Homo sapiens: one gene and its partner. The protein of the gene in region 1 purifies or fractionates together with the protein of each later gene. This does not show direct contact. Each region holds a gene or a part of one and is shown in the gene's direction. Other genes may lie near its edges.

Evidence for each region. Proteins that work in one complex are often made in the same cells at the same time.
Region 2: the proteins of KCNMB3 (region 1) and ATP11C purify together in Homo sapiens (affinity purification with mass spectrometry; one large-scale study listed by BioGRID and IntAct). This does not show direct contact.

The regions. Positions count from the first base shown.
Region 1 is NC_000003.12:179,245,064-179,248,138, reverse strand, and holds part of KCNMB3 (calcium-activated potassium channel subunit beta-3), read left to right. Parts: intron 1-3,075. UniProt on the Homo sapiens protein: Regulatory subunit of the calcium activated potassium KCNMA1 (maxiK) channel. Modulates the calcium sensitivity and gating kinetics of KCNMA1, thereby contributing to KCNMA1 channel diversity.
Region 2 is NC_000023.11:139,797,014-139,800,666, reverse strand, and holds part of ATP11C (phospholipid-transporting ATPase IG), read left to right. Parts: intron 1-556; coding exon 557-607; intron 608-1,923; coding exon 1,924-1,988; intron 1,989-2,312; coding exon 2,313-2,394; intron 2,395-3,340; coding exon 3,341-3,491; intron 3,492-3,653. UniProt on the Homo sapiens protein: Catalytic component of a P4-ATPase flippase complex which catalyzes the hydrolysis of ATP coupled to the transport of aminophospholipids, phosphatidylserines (PS) and phosphatidylethanolamines (PE), from the outer to the inner leaflet of the plasma membrane.

The DNA.
Region 1 (3,075 bases):
TGCTTCTTAATACCTAAATGATGTTTGCTGAAATGAGGGGAATGGGGGTTCTGATTAGGGAAGGGGAGGGGCTATTTAATTTTGTAGGATGGCCCACACAACATGTGGTACTCTGGGGCCAGGTCAGTTCAGGGTAAAAGGAAGGCAAGGGGTGCTTTTTGGACATTGCTTTATTTTTGGACAGCCCTTTTTTTTTTGGACAGCCAAAGAGCAACAGGAGGCCCAGGGGGAGTGGAAGAGGAAGGCCTAGGAGTTCAGTGAGGGAAAGGGGTCATAAAAAAGGAAGAGAGTGGCCTACTTCTGTTATTTATGATTCATCTCCTGCCATTCCTAGGTTACCATTGTTAGGGGAAAGATGTAGAAGTCACCATTTACTATAGCACACAGTGCCACTGTTGGAAGAATTCCAGAAGAAGCTTCTCTCTGGTATTAGCACCAGGAGAAGCTGTGCTGCTCCTGATCAACCAGCTTACTTTCATTTAATGGACGCCAGGAGTCTTGTATCTGGTTGTGTTTCCTTCATTGCTTTGGCTGCTAGGAAACCCAGAGGCAACTTTGTAGCTCGGTTCTCATAACTACAAGGGATCTTATGGTCTGCAGATTACATGTTTGTACCTCACTTTTTTTTAAACTTTTTTTTTTAAGAAGTGGGATCTCACTATGTTGTCCAGGCTAGTCTCAAACTCCTAGGCTCAAGCGATTCTCTTGTCTTGGCTATACCTCACTTCTGACTTCATTCTGTCTTTTTTTCCTCTTTTTCATTTACTCCTTTTCCTCTCATCATATATATATATATATGCATTACATGTCTATGTAATTTGATTGAATGTTTGAATGTATGGGAATGTTGAGTAAATGTCCGTGTGTGTGCACAGGCAGATCATTTTTAAAAATGTGACATATTTGGGAGATGGCTTGAGGGTACCTTCTGCAAGCTGGTACCAAACTGTTGCTCATAATTAAGTTTTACTTTTCTAAGCATTCCTGGAAATTATTTGGTTAAATTAATTAAGTGAATGCCTAAGAGTGGTGAGTTCTCATCTCTCTCTTGCCTTACATCTTGTGCCATCTCAGCGAGTAGTTTTGCTCCATAAAGGGTGGTAGTTAAGAAGCCCTGCGTAGTTCATACCTATCCCCACTCCCTCAACCTCTCATCCCTCAATCAGATGATGGATTTTGTCACAGCTGTAGCCAAATACACACCCGATGCTATTGAAGGAACATGCTTATTTTTTAGCCCTAAATACATCCCTGGTTCCACCTGAAAGGCTCTGACCGGGGCCTTGTGCATGGGACAGAATGTCCCACTCTATTTTGAAGCTTTCTAAAATCTTTAAGGAAAATTCAAATCATACTCAGTTCAGTACTCGGTCAAGATTTAGAGAGCTTAAGTTCTAACAGATAAAAAAGTAACTCTAAATTATTATTTCAAGATGCCTAGTTAAAATAAACATATAAATTAATTTAGTGAAAAAGCAGGCCAGTGCTAAGTCTATGAAATAATCTTATTTTCCGCTTTTGTATTTTCACTTGCCCAGTATTTTTTCTTTGGCCATATCTAGTGATTTTTATACCCCAGACCTTGAGGCCATGTTAAACTGCACAGTGTGTCTCAAGTTTGTTATATTAATAAGGGAAAATGATTATTTTGGTCAAAGAGATTAGTGAGAGTGCATTATGAACCTAGCTAAATATTGCTTTTCGAACATTCTTACTTTTTTTTTTTTGGGACAGAGTCGGCCTCTGTTGCCCTGGCTGGAGTGCAGTGGCACAATCTTGGCTCACTGCAACTTCTGCCTCCCGGGTTTAAGCAATTCTCCTGCCTCAGCCTCCTATATAGCTGGGATTACAGGTGCCGGCCACCATGCCCAGCTAATTTTTGTATTTTCAGTGAAGACGTGGTTTCGCCATGTTGGCCAGGCTGGTCTCAAACTCCTGGCCTCAAGTGATCTGCCCGCCTCGGCCTCCCAAAGTGCTGGGATTATAGGCATGAGCCACTGCGCCTGGCCCTGCTTTTCAAACATTCTGACTTTAGAGCTTGCTAATCTAACTTATTATGTTTAAGGAACCGGTAAGTAAACACAGGAGTCCACCTATATGTGAGTGTGAGGGTATATGAAGAGCTGGTCTCATATATTCAATCAAAGCGTTTCCTCTTCCCCTCGTTTACTTTGTCTTGGACTTGTTTTCAAATTATTTCATACATATACACATGTCCTTTCTCTTCAACATCACCACAAGGTCTTCATGGCAGGAATTTTGTCTGTCCCTTCTGGGATGTTTTGCATATGTATTACATGTGAAAATTCTCAAGAAATTTTCCAAGTAAAATTTAATTCAGACCAGGAGCCGTGGCTCACGCCTGTAATCCCAGCACTTTGGGAGGCCAAGGTGGGAGGATGACGAGGTCAGGAGTTCAAGGCCAGCCAGGCCAATGCGGTGAAACCCCATCTCTACTAAAAATACAAAAAATTAGCTGGGCGTGATGGTGCGCACCTGTAATCCCAGCTACTCAGGAGGCTGAGGCAGGCGAATCGCTTGAAACCAGAAGGCGGAGGTTGCAGTGAGCCGAGATTGCACCACTCCAGCCTGGGCAACAAGAGCGAAACTCCATCCCCCCCCCCAAAAAAATTAATTCAGTACAGCACTTATTAAACATCTACTCAGTGAGAAGCATTCTGTTTCATGCTTTGAGGAACATACGGATGAATTGGATATAGCTCTTGACCTCTAGGAACTTAATTGATAGCAAAAATATGGTAAGTATTCTACTGAGAGATTCCATGTATGATTTGCACTTGCCTCTTTGGAAGTAGTGGGTATGTGGAATTGTACCTTGTTGCCAGAAATTGTGTAGGCTATGTTGACCAACGGCCCTGTAGTTAGACTCCTTCCAAAGGCACATTTTCATCAGGACAAGCCAGTGCATCTTGAGATGATGAGCATGAGAGGTGATGAGATTCCTGAGTGAGGGTGAATCTTGGTGGTTACAGCATTATGGTAATGCTAACACTGTTTACACTGTGGTTCTCCAAATACCTGCATCTTAAATACTATTAAAGATTCCTGGGCCTC
Region 2 (3,653 bases), on another chromosome or scaffold:
GTGTTCACTGTCTAAGACTAGTACTATGGTTTAAAGAGTGGTTTCAGGACCAGCAGCAGCAGCATTACTGGGGAACCTGAATCAGAAGCTCAGGGATGGGACCTAGAAATCTGTGGTTTAATTAGCGCTCCAGTGATTCTGATGCACACTCAAGTGTAAGAACTACTGAACTAGCGGTTTTGAAAATTGTATTTTAGCACCAGAAACCTTTCTTCACATGATCCAAGATAGAAGTTACGTTATTTATATAAACTTATAAAAGAGAGAGGTGTTGTGTGCATGCATGATGTTAAACAGAACTTGAAAATCAATTGAGAACCTTTGTTTCTGCTCCTATAATCCCATCATGTTATTTAAAAATTATATGAAAATGTTATACACCTTATCAATTCAACATAACTTTTTTTCCCCCAGAAATATAATAGGCTTTTGTAGTTCATTCACAGTTTTATCTATCTCTGTTTTATTATTTGTATTTTCATTCATTCTCATATTTCTGGTACATGGATTTCACCTGGATGTAGAAAACACATTTGCAATTTTGTTCTTTTTACAGATTTGTTGGGCGAATCAATATCTACAGTAATAGTCTTGAGGCTGTTGCCAGGTAAGTTTGCTGTTTCTTTAATTTGTCCTTTGGTTGGGGGGGGGGGTCTATTTTTCTGTTAAATCAACTAAAATAGCCAAATACCTTTCTATTATAGAAAGGAATATAGGCCGGGTGCGGTAGCTCACGCCTGTAATCCCAGCACTTTGGGAGGCTGAGGTGGGTGGATCACCTGAGGTCAGGAGTTTGAAGCCAGCCTGGCCAACGGGGTGAAACCCAATCTCTATTAAAAATACAAATTTAGCTGGGCGTGGTGGCACACATCTGTAATCCCAACTACTCAGGAGGCTGAGGCAGGAGAATCTCTTGAACCCGGGAGGCGAAGGTCGCAGTGAGCCAAGATTGAGCCATTGCACTGTACCCTGGGCAACAAGAGCAAGACTCCATCTCAAAAAAAAAAAAAAAAAAAAAAAAAGGAATATAAAGGTGAATAAGCAACTAACCTTGTGATTGGTAGAGTTGTGGTGATAGGGTCTCTGTGTTGTGGGGAGGGGGCTGTTAGAAGTAATGCTTATGGTTTCCAAAATAGCAGAGCTCCAGACATTTTGGATTATATTCCCAAACCTGTTCTAGCCATGTTATTTATTATCCTCGGTTGTGAAGTGGCTGACAACATTGGAATTATAACTGGAGAACAGTGGGAGAGTAATTGAGAAAGTAAGCAGTGGGTAAAATGCTGGAAGAACTACCTGGACTTACGTAAAATGAAAGGCTTCATTAAAACGAATTGTTTTATGTATACGAATTGTATGTATCAGCCTTCATACAATTTATCAAGCAGTTCATACAAAAAGGGATGCTTTCTTTCCTCTTCTATCATCATATTAATTACCGCAACTTTTCCACTTGGCCTTTACAGCCACACTCAAAAAGTTAAAGAAATACAGGGTCCCCAGTGATCCCCCAAAAGGAGGGTTTATTCTCTCCAAATATGTCAGTATATTTTTCCCACCTTGACGTTTGCATTCCCTGTCTTTTATTGATGGCTGTCTGCTTTTGTGTCTTGCGATCTGCTGCTCTGTTCTGTTCTCGTCTTGCTATCCATGATTCATAATCCTTTTATCCCCCCCCATGTATTTTTTTTGCCTATGTGTGTTGCTGGCTACTCCCGTACTGTGCTTCCATCTGTGCTGTACCCTCAAGTAACTTCAGAGTGAAGGACCTTTCAGCTTGTCCTGGGGAGTAAGCATATGGTATAAGTAGACAGATAACATTCTGAACCCCTTGGAGATAGGTGTGTGTCAGGGCAAAATCTGTCCCCAGAGTTGTTGATGCTATTGGCTTGTTTGGATAAGCTGTGTTCATTTTTTATTTAGGTCTTTGGGACCTGAAAATCTCTTGCTGAAAGGAGCTACGCTAAAAAATACCGAGAAGATATATGGTGAACAATTTTTAAGATACACCTATCAAAAAATATGCTTTGTAAAGGCTGTGAATAAATAGTGCATATTAAAAAGTAAACATGGCAGGTTTGCCATTTAATTTAAACCTACATTTAGGTGTTGGGAATTTATAACGTGGTAAACTAAGACGAAATATGACAAATACTATATATAATTAAAATTATCCTATAAATGATATACAACTGGTGAGTGGAAGAGGGCCTAGATTTCCCACTTTTATAGACTTAAAAATTCATAGAGCCAGCTGGGTGAGGAGTTGGTTGACAAGTTCTTAGTTTTTATTATATTCTGTAATTTCTTAGGAGTTGCTGTTTACACTGGAATGGAAACCAAAATGGCTTTGAACTACCAAGGGAAATCTCAGAAACGTTCTGCTGTTGAAAAGTTAGTATGCGCCACAATTTATTTAGTCATTATTGATTAAAATAGTTACTTTCTTGGTAATTCCAAGTAACAAGCATAACAAAAAACAACATCAATTATAATAGCAACTACAATTTTAAGCACTTGTTTATGTACCAGAAACTGTGCTCAATGATTTGTATGTCTGATTTGGTTTAGTCCTCTGAAGAACACTGTGAAGTAATTCATGTTAACCTCTCCACTTTACAGATGAGGAAATGGTCTTGGAGATGGTATGTGACTTACCTAAGCTCACATAGCTATTAAAGGGCAGAGTTTACTTGAACTGTAAATTCATTCCTTTTTGCTAGTGGAGTTAATGGTTTGGAGTCCTTTAGTTGCTATATGCAAGTTGGTTCTATAATATAGATAATAGTCTCCTGGCACCTATTGAAGCAGTGCCTCGTAGATCCTCAAGCCAGTTGCCACTGCTATAGACCTCACCCTGTATTTGGCATGGATAACCAGTATATCACTGGCACCCTTTCCATAGCTCCACTTTTAAACTGAAAGAACCTACACCGAGCTTGAGGATTTCACATTGCTACCGTGCCCTCTACCCCAAACATTTAGGATTCAGGGAAATGGAGACAAGATACTCTTTCTATAAGGGTTGAGTAAGTAATGGTGTGTGTATGTGTGCATGTGTGTACCTCTCCTGTCACTTTACAGGAACCTTAATAAGGTGTGTTCAGCTAGTCAGCCATTGCACTTGGGGGAGCATTGGTGGTCAATAAACAGTTCATGGCCAGCTTTTCCATTTTGCCACTTGAAAGTAATGCTGCAGCTATGATAACTGAGGTTAATACACAAAGGCTTGTGCTGTAGTTACGCGTCGTACACAGAAAAAGCTTTAGATGACTCAGTAGTTTAATTCATATCTGACTGATGTCTTTGGTTTTAAAATCCATGCTATCTTATTTTTCAGATCTATTAATGCTTTCCTGATTGTATATTTATTTATCTTACTGACCAAAGCTGCAGTATGCACTACTCTAAAGTATGTTTGGCAAAGTACCCCATACAATGATGAACCTTGGTATAACCAAAAGACTCAGAAAGAGCGAGAGACCTTGAAGGTAATTTGTTTTCTGCTGAAAATTGAAACTATTTTTTGTGACTGAGCCAACCTTCACTGAAATGCTGCTCAGGGAAACGGCACCTTTTGTTAGCTTCTGAATTTTCTCTCGATTACATGGTGGCTCTAAGCCAATAAATATTTAAGAAGATTTATTGTAAAA